3 separate regions of the Homo sapiens genome follow, and all the other regions are linked to region 1. Evidence: fine-mapped expression QTL. A gene starts in region 1. Each other region holds a variant in brackets. All regions are shown on one strand. Distances are from middle to middle. Region 1 holds the start of DAP3 (death associated protein 3). Region 2 overlaps SYT11 (synaptotagmin 11). Region 3 has its middle 15 kb from the start of MSTO1.

The links. PIP is the estimated chance that this variant, and not a neighbour inherited with it, causes the effect.
Region 2: its variant is fine-mapped to the expression of DAP3 in tibial nerve (GTEx, PIP 0.98).
Region 3: its variant is fine-mapped to the expression of DAP3 in whole blood (TOPMed, PIP 0.96).

Annotation. Positions count from the first base shown.
Region 1 is chr1:155,686,156-155,691,155 of GRCh38, reverse strand. DAP3 (death associated protein 3) reads right to left here and starts at 2,065. Exons shown (of 13, transcript NM_004632.4): 1 at 1,982-2,065. YY1AP1 (YY1 associated protein 1) reads left to right here and starts at 2,382. Exons shown (of 11, transcript NM_139119.3): 1 at 2,382-2,497; 2 at 2,955-3,085. It also overlaps the pseudogene LOC124904430. RefSeq lists enhancers at 1,917-1,966, 2,342-2,976 and a silencer at 2,457-2,506.
Region 2 is chr1:155,866,886-155,872,383 of GRCh38, reverse strand. It overlaps SYT11 (synaptotagmin 11), which reads right to left. Exons shown (of 4, transcript NM_152280.5): 2 at 3,593-4,419. Among named protein-coding and RNA genes, the nearest start is that of SYT11, 10 kb to the right of the region's middle. The variant A/G (reference allele first, on the strand shown) is at 2,381.
Region 3 is chr1:155,622,214-155,627,682 of GRCh38, reverse strand. It overlaps the pseudogene LOC100419798. Among named protein-coding and RNA genes, the nearest start is that of MSTO1, 15 kb to the right of the region's middle. The variant C/A (reference allele first, on the strand shown) is at 2,366.

The DNA.
Region 1 (5,000 bases):
GCAGGTGGATCATGAGGTCAGGAGATCGAGACCAGCCTGGCTAACACGGTGAAACCCCGTCTCTACTAAAAATACAAAAAATTAGCTGGACGTGGTGGCGGGTGCCTGTAGTCCCAGCTACTCAGGAGGCTGAGGTAGGAGAATGGCGCGAACCCGGGAGGCGGAGCTTGCAGTGAGCCGAGATCGCGCCACTGCACTCCAGCCTGGGTGACAGAGCGAGACTCCGTCTCAAAAAAAAAATAAAATAAATTAGCTGGATGTGGTGGCATGTGCCTGTAGTCCTAGTTGCTCAGATGGCTGAGGTGGGAGGATCCCTTGAGCCAAGGAGCTTGAGGTTGCAGTGAGCCAGGACTGCACTACTGCCTTCCAGCCTTGGCGACATAGATCCTATCTCAAAGCAAACAAACAAAAAAAAGTGTAAATTTACAGAAGAGTTGCAAAGGTAGTACAAAGTGCTTTCTTACAATTTTCATTAGAGTTTCCTTAATGTTACATACATATGACCATGGTACAATTTTCAAAATTAAGAAATTAAAGCTGGTACAATACTATTTAAAAATTGCAGACTTTATTTGCATTTCCTCAGCTTTTCTGCTAATGTCTTCTTTCTTTTTTTGAGACAGGGTCTCGCTCTGTCACCTAGGCTGCAGTGTGATGGCGTGATCTCGGCTAACTTTGCAACCTCTTCCTCAATCCTCCTGCTTCAGCCTCCCAAGTAGCTCAGACTACAAGCGTGTGCCACACCTGTCTAATTTTTGTGTCTTTTTGTAGAGATGGGGTTTCACCGTGTTGCCTAAGCTGGTCTCGAACTCCTAGGCTCAAGCAATGCGCCCTCCTCCGCCTCCCAAAGTGCTGAGATTACAGGTGTGAGCCACTGCGCCCAGCCTAATGTCTTCTTTCTGTTACAGGATCCAGTAGAAGATTCCACATCTGGAGATCTTTTCCTTTCTTTATATCTATCACCGACATTACCTACTCTTTAAAAATTTTGTAAAAGGCATAAATTTGAAAAATATATCCTCATTAATCTAAATCAAGTCATTGATACAACTATTTAACAAGACGCCCGGCCTGCTTTGTTTTATTAACGACTTGGAGGGACAGAACACTACCCATTACACCCACAAACGTTATCGACATCAACAGAACTGTAAATGACAACACGGCAATACTCTGCACCTTCCCTATGCCTAGGAGCTAATTCCACTTTACATATATTATTATTTCGTGTGTGTGTGTGTGTGTGTGACGGAGTCTCGCTTTGTCGCCAGGCTGGAGTGCAGTGGCGCGATCTCGGCTCACTGCAACTTCCGCCGCCCGGGTTCAAGCAATTCTCCTGCCTCAGCCTCCCGAGTAGCTGGGGCTACAGGCGCCCGCCACCACGGCCGGCTAATATTTGTATTTTTAGTAGAGACGGGGTTTCACCATGTTGGCCAGGATTGTCTCGATCTCTTCACCTTGTCATCCACCTGCCTCGGCCTCCCAAAGTGCTGGGATTACAGGCGTGAGCCACCGCGCCCAGCCCTATCTTATTATTTCACACACCAACCCTGGAGGCATGTTTGGAGTTGCCTAATTTTTATGTACACTTTTTGATAAGGAACTAACAAAAATAACTTGCTGAAGACAAGGGAAACTGAGTCCAGAACTGAATGAGAAGCACATGGTTTCTTCATCCTCCATCACCAGGCTGTCTAACGAGGCTGAAGTACCATCCATGAGTAAGTGCGTCAAGGGCAAACAAACATCATCGCATATGGACAGTGGTGTGAAATTCGAGAAATCCGAGGAGGGTTAACAACAACAAAAAGCACACCACCACGCCGAACTTCCTCGGGTCCCAGGTTGGCAACTCAACGCCCGGGAGGAATCCCCCCCGGAGGCGCGCCGGTCTACCGGCCTCACTCCCTACCTCCTGGAGGTCCGGAGTCCCGCTCCTTTCCCTCAGCGGTACAATACCCGTGTCGGTCCATTCCCTCACCGTGAGTCGAGGACTAGTTCTCCAGACTAGGCGACCGACACACGCTGCCTGGGGCCGGCTCCAAAGCGCCCGTCCTGAGACTGCAAAAAAGGGTCGGGTCATCCGGCAGGAAACGACTCAACGCGCAGCCGCCGCGGCCTCCAACCACCGGCCGGCAGAGGGGCGCTAGGCCGCCCTCGATCCCCTCGCCGCGGTCCCATGGAGGAGGAGGCGAGCCGCAGCGCCGCGGCGACGAACCCAGGGAGGTAGGTTGTCATGGGACTCGGCCGGCCACCCTGGCAATTCCAGTCAAACGGCAAGCCAGACTCGCTTTGCCGGTCCCTTCCTCTCCTGCCCCTGCAGCCGCCAGGAATGGAACAGTCCCGCGGTGGGGACTGTGGGAGGCGCACGCGCGAGGAGTGTAGGGTGGGGGTGCTGGCGGCGGCTGCTTTGGCGGCGGTTGGTGGCCGTGCGGGCGGGGAGGGAGGGGGAGGAGAGAAGAGGAGGTGGAGAAGGCTTGGGCTCGCGCCGCTGAAGGTACGCGTGAGGGCCTGCGCTGGAGCCGGCTTGACAGGGTCTGAGGGGGAGTGGAGAACTGGGCGAGGAGGTTCCCGTGGGTGAGCGCGTACGGGATGGCTGGCTCGCAGGACGGCCGAAGGTGGTGGTTGGTGGGAGCAGCCAGCGACGAGCCCGTAGACACTCGTACGCGTGCGGGCTGACGTGCGCGCTACATGGCCGGAGTCGGGCGAAGCGGGGGACCGTGGGGAAGAACGCGAGGAGGGAGGAGTGGGAGGTTGGGGGTGTCGCTAGGCGCCCTTAGCTCCCTCCCTCTGGAGGAGCTGCCGCGGCCACTCTGCTGCCGCCGCTGCCGCCGCCATTTTGGGTTCGCTTTGCGAGGGGAAACGATCCCAGTGTCGGTTGCGGGATCCGCCTCCTCTCAGTTTGCCCCTTTAGCCCTCCACCTTTCCCTTCTCCTCTCTCGCATTTCCGCCAGTCGGCTTACCCGCTGGCCGCCTCCTGACAAGCGGGAGGGATCCGCGGTGGACCCAGGGAAGCGGAGGAGCCTGGCGGCCACCCCCTCTTCCTCACTTCCCTGTACTCTCATCGCTCTCGGCCTCCGACACGGTGAGTAGAACGATTTGGGCCGGCATTCGGGCCTAAGCACTCTCTCAGCGATTGAATCCTGGGCTTTCTGGGAGCCACTGTCATCTCCCGGACCTGGACCTCTGGGAGAGCAGTGGTGAAGATGGGGGAGGGGAGAGCAGGGAGGGGGATCCTGAGCCTACCGGGAAGTCCCTCCAGGCGGGGTGAAGGGGTGTCCCTGACAGGCAGACTCCCGGAGGGGGCTGGGAAGTAAGCGAGTGGAGGCGGAGTCGGCTGTGCCCCTGACAGGTTAGTTTGTGTTTGTAGGCATGATCGGAGCCTCCCCCATAGTCCAGTTTGTGTGTGTTTAATTAAGGGATAAGAGTGGTCGAGGACACGATCTTGAGAGGGGATTTTACCTGTGTGACAAGGTCTGTGGTGTCCCTGCCGCGTTGAACGGTATGTGGGAACGACAGGATGATCTCAGTGTTGTACGTTTAATAAATGTCACTGGTTAGTTTGTACATGGAAAGAGATGTTTTTGGTCTAGCAGACAGATGGTCTGTTGGTGTGTAGCGGCTGTGTTGGTGTGTGTATGTGAGGATGGCAAGTGTTTCCGTAAGAGTTTGCCTTTATTTGTGTAAGTGTAATGGAGTTCCCCTTATAAGTTAGCTTATTTCTTGAATAAATGTTGGGAGGTTCCTTGCAGGTTGATATGTGTGTGTATTTTAGGGATTGGGAGCCCCTAGTTACTTGTTGGGAAAGAGCGGCAATGGTAGTGTTCTGTACAGCATGTGTCTGTGAGGTCAGGGAGGGGAGAAACTTGGCATAGCCAGTTGTGGTCTTAAGAATAGTTTGTGCCTTTGGTTAGAGTGAGTTGTGTAAATGTGAAGGGCCAAAATATCTTTAACAGAATCATTGCTACAAAGCTGTAAAGAATGGGTGGCCTTATTTGTTGTCGCGGGTTTATAGTAATAGTTTACAATACAATAAGAAAGCTCTTTCAGTTTCTTTGTGATACTGAATCTCTGTGAAAATGGTAGGATGCTTTCTTCCATTTTACAAAATAGGAAATTTAGGCATAAGGAGAGAACTTCTCCAAGGCCGCATGTTAAATTGGTGACAAAGTTGGAACTGTAACTCCCATATTTTCACTACTACTGCAGCAGTATATTCAGCATACCATGGTGCCTCAGGAAGTCTTTGTCGGCAAATCTGAGTATGCTGGAAAGATAGGAGCACATAAGACTGGTTGGCTTGTATTTGGGGGAGACCGATTGTGTCAGATATGTATGTGGAACGTAGCTGTCCTTGCCGAGTCTGACCTGTATGAAATGCATATCCATGGCTATATTATTTTGGATTTATGGAGGAAGCAGAGCATTTCTGACACTTAAGGTTGTATGCGTGAGGGAGAAGGCTTTCACAGCTTAACTTGTACCAGAGCAGCTGCATGGGTGCTGACAGCTTAACTTGAAATCTGTGGGAGGAAGGATCCTTTTTCACTCATTCAACAAATATAACCATTCAATGAATGGTCCATGCCTTGAGGTGAGGATCATCAAGGTGTCTCTGTAAATAGCCTGGATGCAATCTGAGGGGAGTTGTTTTGACGGTGGTAGGTATTAAGTTGAGGGAGGCAGTGTGGAATTAAAACCAGAGAACTGTTTTTGGGTACTGGTAATTGTTAATATATGTGCCTGTGGATGTTGGAACTTCTTGGCTGGGCTGAAGGAATCCTTTGAAAGACTGATTTCGGCAGGGCGCGGTGGCTCACACCTGTAATCCCAGCACTTTGGGAGGCCGAGGTGGGCGGATCACGAGGTCAGGAGATCGAATCACGAGGTCAGGAGATCGAGACTATCCTGGCTAACAGGATGAAACCCCGTCTCTACTAAAAATACAAAAAATTAGCCGGGCGTGGTGGCGGGCGCCTGTAGTCCCAGCTACTCGGGGA
Region 2 (5,498 bases), 180 kb before region 1:
TTAGGTGGACCATCATAAGCTCAATAAACCCTTCTTGAGGCCAGATGTCCTGAGGGCCACCTCTAGCCTAAATCACAACCATGGGAAAACAAAACCTTAACATTCAATCCCATCCCCCTTTTCCTCCCTGCAATACACATACATGATCTGTTGCCCAGTCTGGAGTGCAGTTTGTGGTAATAGCTCACTGCAACCTCAAACTCCTGGGCTTCCCGCCTTGGCCTTCCAAAGTGCTAGTATTACAGGGGTGAGCCACTGTGCCTGGCCATATTTTCTTTTATTTTTTTATTTTTTATTTTTTATTTTTTATTTTGAGACAGGGTCTCCTTCTGTCATCCAGGCTAGAGTGCAGTAGCTTTTTCCTGGTCTATGTAATCCAGACCAGGAAAAAGCCCTTTACAGCCAGTGTGGCATGGTCCAGGGCAGCTCTAGCTGACGTTCACCAAGGAGAGATCCTACTTTGCTATGGTAGGGAGGATTTGGGATAGACATTTGCAGCCTGCACTTCTAGGGAACCTAGTGGATGAGTGACTAGGGAGATGACAGCCATGGCTCAGATGGAACATAGTCCTGCCTACGGGCACTGGTTGGGAAAATGGGTTTAGGAAGCCTGGGAGGCTGGAAGGCTCTAGGGTGGGGCTGCACAGGCTCTGGGTAACCTATCTCGGGCCTTCTCCAGGGCATGTGTTGCTCAGGATCCTAGCCCTGGCTTATCCCTCCTCAAGGGAGTTAATAAAGTGGAAAGAAATGTGGCTCTTGCCAAGAGCCCCTGGCAGCTTAGCAAATGCCATTGTCTGTGCTGTGTCCAGTGCCCTTGATTTGAGGCTGTTTTGTTCCCAGCCCAAATCAGTCCCTTTCATTGCCAGTCTCTTCCCAGCTGCAGCTTGGCACAGAGCCATGTTCTACTCCCAGCCTTGGGCTGCAAGTGTATAGCTGTCTGGAGGAGTCCAGCTGGTTGGTGACTTTACCAAGGTTGGAGTCACAGGGAAGGGTGTATTGGAAAGGCTCCTCCTTCAAGGAGAGGTAGACAAGGGAAGGAGTAGAGGATGGGAGCTGCTGTGAAGGGAATACGGAAACAGCAGAATGGGTCGGCAGAGCCCTGAGGAAAAAAGATGGGACAGGGGAGGGGAGAGAAGGGGATGAAACAGGCCACTGCTTCCATTTCTATTCACACCTTCTGATTCCAGTCTCAGAGGATGCGAAAACCCCTTCAGGGCTGGACTCTGGGATGTCTCATTGTATCCTGGCATTGAGAACCACAAGATGTTGTGGCAGTGTCTTGTTTATGCTCTGACGTTCACCAAGTTTTCCTATAATTAGCAGAACCTCTTTCAGAGTGATTTTCTAGCCAAGGAGCCCTTGTATTAGGTGGATGAACATAACCTCAATAAACCCTTCTTGGGGCCAGATGTCCTGAGGGCCACCTCTACCCTAAATCACAATCACAAATGTGTCTAATATTCTTCAAGATTCTTGGACTTCCCTGGCCCCTGTGACATGGATCTGAGTGTGCCAGGTGGCAGTAGCAGTTCCTTCAGGCAATGAAAGGCAGGACCGGGCTGGCTGCAGGGGGACAGGTGCCTACTACAGAGCAGAGAAGGCAAGAATACACACACACAAAGTGTGCTCCCTGCTGTCCCCCACCCAGACTTGGCACAGTACCCTTCTTCAGCAGGCAAACCTTGTTCCTGGGTACTCACTGCACACTCTGCACCTGCTAACTTAGGAGCCTCTTCTATCCAGTCCTGAGCCTCCTGTCTACCCACTGAGTCCAGTGAGGACTTGCAGGTAAAAAAGGTATCAAGAAATAAGTATGATCTGCCCACAGGCAGAGCTCTTTCTGGGAGATGTGCAGTTGTTTCTAGTGGCCTCGAAATTCTTTCCTAACCTCCTTCACCAATTCCTCCCTTGTCTTCCTTCACTGTGTCAAAACAAAATATAAATATTTACAAACCACATGCATCACCCAGGTATCAAACTTGACTAATAATAGGAATAACAATAATAGTAACGGTCACAATTTATTGAAGGCTCACTGTGTCCTAGTAGCTATATAAAATCATCATCCTACTCTATTCCCATAAGAAACTGAGACTTAGCGAAAGTGAAGCAGCTTGCCCAAGGTCATTTAGCTGGTGGAATTTGGATTTAAACTCAGGTCTGACTTCAAAGTCCTTGCTATTTTAACCACTTATGTTATACCCTGAAAAAGACATGAAACTCTAAGTTTAAAATTTCAACAACTTCTTTCATAGCACCTACCATACTCACTATACAGTAATTACAAAAAATATTTGTCTTTCTCCTTCAATAAAGTGAAACCTCTTCAAGGGCAATCATATGCCAGGCATATTATCTCATTTGATTCTCTGTAAGGAAG[A/G]CAATATTATCAGCTCCATTTTACAAATGACAAAATAGAGGCTTAGAGGGGTCGAGTAACTCACCCGTGTCACACGGCTGGCAAGTGGTAAGCTGGAGAGTAAAGTCGTGCAGTCCAATTCTGGAGCCCAAGTGTTTAACTGCAGCATTTCACTGCCTCCCCAGTTGTGGAAGAAATAAATGAACTAATGGGGTTGGGTGGGGCTACACTTACTGTGCTCCTGAAATTACAACTCAAGAGCCAATGTCGGTCCAGTGGGAAGAGGGAGAGAGAAGGCAGGATGGAGGGCCCTCGTCCCTCTTCTAATACAAAGAGGGAGGACAGGAGAAATGGAGAGAGGGGAAGTGTCTATGGCAAAGGTTTGGGCCTAGAAGGGTGAAGCAATTCATTGAATTGCATTGTAAAATGGTCATAAGAAGACATGTGCATGACGGCTGGGTGCAGTGGCTCATGCCTGTAATCCCAGTACTTTTGGAGTCCGAGGCAGGTGGATCACCTGAGGATAGAAGTTCAAGACTAGCCAGGCTAACATGGTGAATCCCCGTTTCTACTAAAAATACAAAAAATTAGCCAGGCGTGGTGATGGGTGCTTGCAATCCCAGCTACTCGGGAGGCTGAGGCAGGAGAATAGCTTGAACCTGGGCGGTGGGGGTTGCAATGAGCTGAGATTGCGCCATTGCACTCCAGCCTGGGCGACAAGAGTGAAACTCTGTCTCAAAAAAAAAAAAAAAAAAAAAAAAGACATGTACATGGTATCATTTACACCCCTAGGTTAGGGTTGGGAAAGGGAAGCTGAGGGAAAAATTACTGAATTATTGTCATAGCTTCTCAGCTGTGAAAAATAAATTCACTGGAGGAAGATCACATCATTTTGGAGAGGAAATTAGCTCCCATATCCCTGATATAATGAAGGATCTACAAATGGTAGGCCAGCCTGTTCCAAGTAAGCTGGACAGCATCAGGATGCCAACCACTAAGTGAAATGGTGAAAGCTATTGAACCTTCTCTCACCAGGAAGTTGCTTCTTAGAGGAGACCTCATCTGCCAGGCCCTCTGTCTTACTCTGACCACTGCTTATCCTTGACATCCAAGAGCTTCCTCTCTACAGCCCTTCTTTGCCACCCAACCCACTCCCCTCCCACTTCCATTTATCCCCTGAGATATTTTCTCCCCCAACCTACCATTGCTCCCCAACACACACTTCCTACTCACCTGGATATTCCTTTTGATGATGTCCCTGGTCAGTTGTACCTTGCCTGTGCTGGGGTCCACCCCTGCCAGTGGCACCATGACCTCGCCAATGACATCATCCCGAGAGAAGCGGTCAAAGCTGAGGACAAGGAAGTGCAGCACCAGGTCCTGCAGCTGGCTGTAGGGGATGCCATAGAAGGTGAAGGTCTCGTCAAACACAGGGTCCAGGGTCTTCCGCAGCACTCTGGTCTTCACCCGATGCCGTTTGTCAGGAAGGATGGTCATTTTGATGTAGGGGTCAGATCCCTGGGTCTGGTCATCCATCACTGGCAGCCCATGGGCCTCCTGGATTGTCACCACCAGGGCTTTTTTCGGGAAGTTATAGTCCACTGAGAAGGTGAGGGATCCTAGCATGACATCCTCCTCTGGAGATGATGGAGAGGTGGTTTTGCTCTCCCCAGGGGTCAGGCTTGTAATAGGGCTCCTTAGTTCTTCCCCATAGTCCATTTTGATGGGTAATTGGTCTATACAAGATCCAGAGCTAGGCCCCCTGGGATCTTTGTCTCGGCTTAGCAGGCCAGCCTCTGCTGCGTCCACCAACAGGTTCCTACGTCCACCTTCCCTCCCAGGACCATCTTTGTCTCTCCGCACTTTGATGATTTTCTTCTTGTTGCTGAGGGTCTCTGGGTATATGCTGATGCCTTTGAGCATGTGAATAAACTTGTATGGTGGGTTCTTCTGCTTCTTCTCTGCCTGCTGGTGGCAGCATGACCAGACAAAGACGGTCACCGAGACACACACCACCAGCACAGAGGCCCCGATGAGGCCGGCCACCACCGGTGACACATCTGAAGGCGGAGATCAGAGATGTGTCAGGGCGGGTGGACTTCACCTCCTGTCTAGATCTCCCCTGCTCATTGCCACTGCTGGAGCCAAGCTAATCTTCAATCTAGCCTCTAAAGCAAAATGTGCTCATCTGGGCTTCAGAATTTTTCCCTTCTATTAGAGGCACCCTCTCCCAACCTCTCCAACCACTCCACGGCTTTTCCTCCCAGCCTTCTATAGAAAGCCTTCTCTGAAGCACCCCACTTGACTCTATGTTCTTTCCTAGACCTTCTCTCAGCACTTATAGACTTGGTTTGCTCATACTGATTTGTGCTTCACATAAAGCTGCTCTGTACGTGTTCTAAGATCACCTTTTTACATGAGCACCTGTTCACTTCAACTGTTACACAAGATGTTTGGTTTCAGGATATTCCATAGCATCCAGAACAGGGCCTGCACTGACTGACTCGCTGTCAGGCTAGGGTGGAAGGGTGTGGAGATGAGTTTAGATGGTCTTGGTAGGGTGTTCAGGGTAGTAAAAATGGATGGGTGCCAAAAGGAAGAATTCTGGGTTTATGTACTTTTAAAATATGTTCCAAAATTTTAGCTCCCAGGTATATAAAATACAAGGCTGGGTGCAGTGGCTCACACCTGTAATCCCGGCACTTTGGGAGGCTGAGGCAGGTGGATCATTTGAGGTCAGGAGTTCAAGACCAGACTGACCAACATGGTGAAACCCCGTCTCTACTAAAAATATAAAAAATTAGCTGGGCGTGGTGGCATGTGCCTATAATCCCAGCTACTTGGGAGGCTGATGCAGGAGAATCGCTTGAACCTGGGAGGCAGAGGTTGCAGTGAGCTGAGATCGTGCCACTGCATTCCAGCCTGGGTGATGGAGCAAGACTTCGTCTCAAAAAAAAAAAGGTATTCCTCCAGGATGAATATATCCATTGTAGGCAAAAAAATAGGTGTGTGTATGTATGTATATATATATATGTGTGTGTGTGTGTGTGTGTGTGTATGTGTATATATGTATATGTGTGTGTATATATGTATATATGTGTGTGTGTATATATATGTATTTATGTATACATATATTATT
Region 3 (5,469 bases), 64 kb after region 1:
AACGGGCCATGATGACGATGGCGGTTTTGTCGAAAAGAAAAGGGGGAAATGTGGGGAAAAGCAAGAGAGATCAGATTGTTACTGTGTCTGTGTAGAAAGAAGTAGACATGGGAGACTCCATTTTGTTATGTGTTAAGAAAAATTCTTCTGCCTTGAGATTCTGTTAATCTATGACCTTACCCCCAACCCCGTGCTCTCTGAAACGTGTGCTGTGTCAACTCAGGGTTGAATGGATTAAGGGCGGTGCAGGATGTGCTTTGTTAAACAGATGCTTGAAGGCAGCATGCTCCTTAAGAGTCATCACCACTCCCTAATCTCAAGTACCCAGGGACACAAAAACTGCGGAAGGCCGCAGGGACCTCTGCCTAGGAAAGCCAGGTATTGTCCAAGGTTTCTCCCCATGTGATAGTCTGAAATATGGCCTCGTGGGAAGGGAAAGACCTGACCGTCCCCCAGCCCGACACCCGTAAAGGGTCTGTGCTGAGGAGGATTAGTATAAGAGGAAGGAATGCCTCTTGCAGTTGAGACAAGAGGAAGGCATCTGTCTCCTGCCTGTCCCTGGGCAATGGAATGTCTCGGTATAAAACCCGATTGTATGCTCCATCTACTGAGATAGGGAAAAACCGCCTTAGGGCTGGAGGTGGGACCTGCGGGCAGCAATACTGCTTTGTAAAGCACTGAGATGTTTATGTGTATGCATATCCAAAAGCACAGCACTTAATCCTTTACATTGTCTATGATGCCAAGACCTTTGTTCACGTGTTTGTCTGCTGACCCTCTCCCCACAATTGTCTTGTGACCCTGACACATCCCCCTCTTTGAGAAACACCCACAGATGATCAATAAATACTAAGGGAACTCAGAGGCTGGCGGGATCCTCCATATGCTGAACGCTGGTTCCCCGGGTCCCCTTATTTCTTTCTCTATACTTTGTCTCTGTGTCTTTTTCTTTTCCAAATCTCTCGTCCCACCTTACGAGAAACACCCACAGGTGTGTAGGGGCAACCCACCCCTACAGGGATGCCCTAGGGCTAGTGCTCACTAGGGGATGACTAGAGGTGCGGGCACTCCTATGTTCTCCTTTCAGATGGGAGACATTCCTTCAAAAGTGAAGCCACTCCTGAGGTGTATTCTGGATAATTGGGACCAATTTGACCCTCAAATGCTGAAGAAGTGACTTATATTTTTATGCAGCACCACCTGGCCACAGTATCCTCTTTCCAGAGGAGAGACATGGCCACCCGAGGGAAGTGTAAACTATAATACCATCCTACAGCTAGATCTCTTTTGTAAACGAGAGGGCAAATGGAGTGAAGTGCCATATCTACAGGTTTTTTTTCTCACTAAGGGATAACCCACAATTATGTAAAAAATGTAATTTACATCCTACCAGGGGTCCTCAAAGCCTATCCCCATACCCAGGTCTCCCCATGGCTCCCCATCCCACTAGTAAGGACTCTCCTTTGGCCTTATCAGCCCAAAAGGAACCAGACAAAAAGATAGTCAAGGAACCAAAAGGCACCAATGGACCTTGATTGTGCCCCCTCCAAGCCGTGGGAGGAGGAGACTTTGGCTCAGCACAAGTACATGTCCCCTTTTCCCTCTCAGGCTTAAAACAGATCAAACTGGACCTAGGAAAATTCTCAGATAACCTGATGGATATGTAGACGTCTTACAGGGATTAGGACAATCTTTTGATTTAGCATGGAGAGATATTCTGTTGTTTTTAGGTCAAACATTAACTCCTAACAAAAAAGAGGCCACCTTAGCTGCGGCCCAGGAGTTTGGGGATCTCTGGTACCTAAGCCAGGTAAATGATAAAACGACATCAGAAGAAAGGGAACAATTCACCACAGGCCAATAGGCAGTTCCCAGTGTGGATCCCCACTGGGACCTCGATTCGGAGCATGGAGACTGGAGTCACAGGCGTTTACTGACTTGTATACTAGAGGGATTAAGAAAGACCAGAAAAAAGCCAATGAATTACTCAATTATGTCCACCATAACACAGGGAAAGGAAGAAAACCCTACGGCATTTTTAGAGAGGCTAAGGGAGGCATTAAGAAAACATACCTCTTTGTCACCTGACTCTATTGAAGGCCAGCTAATTTTAAAGGATAAGTTTATCACTCAGTCAGCTGCAGACATTAGAAAAAAACTTCAAAAGTCTGCCCTGGGCTCCGAGCAAAATTTGGAAACTCTATTAAATTTGGCAAATTTGTTGTTTTATAATAGGGATCAGGAGGAGCAGGCTGAACGAGACAGACGAGACAAGAAAAAGGCTGCCACCTTAGTCATGGCTCTCAGGCAGACGAGCTTCAGTGGCTCTGAAAGAAAGAAAGGCTGGGCAGGCAACCCACCTAAC[C/A]GGGCTTGTTATCAGTGTGGCTTACAGGGTCACTTCAAAAAGGACTGCCCAAACAACAATAAGCCACCCCCTTGTCCATGTCCCTTGTGCCAGGGAGATCCCTGGAAGGCACACTGCCCCTTAGGGTGAAGGTCCTCTGGGCCAGAGGCCACTAACCAGATGGTCCAACAAGACTGAGGGTGCCCAGGGCAGGCACCAGCCCAATGCCATCACCATCACAGAGCCCCAGGTAAGCTTAACCAGTGAGGACCAGGAAACTAACTTCCTCCTGGACAATGGCGTGGCCCTGTCAGTTTTACTCTTCTGTCCCAGACAACTATCCTCCAGGTCTTTCACCATCAAAGGGGTCTTAGGACACTCAGTCACTAGGTATTTCTCCCACCCCCTAAATTGTGACTGGGGAACCTTATTATTCTCACATGCCTTTCTTATTATGCCTGAGAGCCCTACTCCTTTACTAGGGAGAGACATATTAGCTAAAGCAGGGGCCATTATATACTTGAATATAGGAGAAGGAATACCTGTTTGCTGCCCTACTCAAGGAGGGAGTTAATCCTGAAGTCTGGGCAGAGGAAGAGCAAGAGCAGTATGGACAAGCAAAAAATGCTTGTCCAGTTCAAGTTAAATTAAAGGATCCTACTTTCTTTCCTTATCAAAGCAGTACCCCCTCTGACCAGAAGCCCAACAAGGGTTACAAAAGATTGTCAAAGACCTACAAGCACAGAGATTAGTAAAGCCATGCAACAGTCCAGGCAACAGTCCTATTCTAGGCATACAAAAACCCAACAGACAGTGGAGGTTAGTGAAAGACCTCTGAATTATCATTGAGGCAGTTGTTCCCCTGTATCCAGTGCCAGGACCAGCTTGGTCAGGGAGACCCTAACCCAGCAGCACTAGAGGAATTAAAGACACACATACAGAATATAGAGGTGTGAAGTGGGAAATCAGGGGTCTCACAGCCTTCAGAGCTGAGAGCCCTGAACAGAGATTTACCCACGTATTTATTAACAGCAAGCCAGTCATCAGCATTGTTTCTACAGATATTAAATTAACTAAAAGTATCCCTTATGGGAAATGAAGGGATGTGCCAAATTAAAGGAATAGGTTGGGCTAGTTAACTGCAGCAGGAGCATGTCCTTAAGGCACAGATCACTCATGCTATTGTTTGTGGCTTAAGAATGCCTTTAAGTGGTTTTCTGCCCTGGGTGGGCCAGGTATTCCTTGCCCTCATTCCGGTAAACCCACAACCTTCCAGCATGGGCTTTATTGCCATCATGAACATGTCACAGTGCTGCAGATATTTTGTTTATGGCCAGTTTTGGGGCCAGTTTATGACCAGATTTGGAGGGGCTTGTTCCCAACAATCCAGTTGTACCTAATCCTTATACTCTACTCTCCCAGATACCAGAGGAAGCAGAATGGTTTACAGTCCTAGATCTTATGGACGCTTTCTTCTGCATCCCTCTGCATCCTAACTCGCAATTTTTATTTGCCTTTAAAGATCTGTCAAACCCAGCATCTCAGCATACCTCGACTATCCTGCCATTCATTTTCAGGGCTAGGATACTAGGAGGTCTAGGAACTGGCATTGGAGGCATTACCACCTCCACCCAATTCTCTTACTGTTGGGGAAAAGCTGAGTGTTGGGAAAAAAGCTGAGTGTTGGGGAAAAAGCTGAGGCAGGGCTTGCATGTCTGATATAATGTAAAAGAGTCTTAGAACAGGTCCAGGGTCCAGGGTCCAGGGTCTAAAACCCCTTGTGGCCTTTGGAACACCAAGCTCTGTGCCAAAGGGTGAAAGGCTGCCCTGCTGCACCACACTCTAAGCCAAGGGCATAAAACCCCTCATGGCTTGAATGGAATCCAGGGCTCAGGGCATAAAACCCCTTGTGGCCTCTGGAATGTGTCTAGATTTGCTGGCTCCTTGTTTCTAGCCCTCCCAGGCTCATAGATCGATTGTGTCTTAAACTAGAAGAACATGTTCCCCATTATCTCAAGTAGCAGAACATGTTCCATATGCTTCAAAGAAAATGCTAAACTGTCACAGCTGTAGATCACACACTTGATACACTGCTTTCTTTGAACCCCCACATCCTCACCACCTGCTTCTTTGTTTGATCACCAATAAATAGTGCAGGCTTCAAGAGCTCAGGGCCTTCACAGCCTCCATACTAGCATTGACCCCCTGGTCCCACTTCTTGCACTCTTAACTTATCTCATTCCTTTGACTCCGCCGGACTTCGTAGCCCCCACAGCCTGGTGTTGGGTCTGATCACCCCAACATATTACAAATTATCACAAGAGTTAAATGATGACATGGAACGAGTTGCAGATTCACTGGTCACCTTACAAAGCTAGCTTAACTCTTTAGCAGCAGTAGCCCTCCAGAATTGGAAAGCCTTAAATTTATTAACAGCTGAAAGAAGTGGAACCTGTCTTTTTCTAGGAGAAGAGTGTTACTATTTTGTTAATCAATACAGAATTGTCACCAAAAAAGGTTAAGGAGCTTCGAGACCAGATACAGTGCCAGGCACAAGAGCTCCAAGACACAGGACTTTGGAGTATTGTCAACCAATGGATGCCCTGGTTTCTCCCCTTCTTGGGACCCTTGGTGGCTATTGTGATGTTGCTTATCTCTGGACCCTGCATTTTTAACCTCCTTGTAAAATTTGTCTCTTCCAGAATAGAATCCATGAAACTGCAAATGATTCTACAGATGGAGCCCCAAATGACCACCACTAGCACCTGCTATCGAGGACCCCTAGACTGACCCACCAATCTGTTCTTGCACCATGACACTGAAGACTCCCCTCCTGAGGAAGGCTCAACTGCAGAGCCCCTTCTACACCCCAGCTCAGCAGGAAGTAGCTAGAATGATTGTTGCCCAACTTCCCAACGGCACTTGGGCTTTCCTTTTGAGAGGAGGGACTGAGGGACTAAGTGGCTAAGTTGGCTGGACTTCCTGGGTCAATAGGGACTTCCCTAAGGGAACTTTCCCCTAAGCCAAAATGAGTTATAGCTGCAAACTAAGGGATTGAACCTTCAACCAATCATATAGGGAGTTTAAGCTCTAGCTGCAGCCTGATGTTTTTAACCAATCATGCC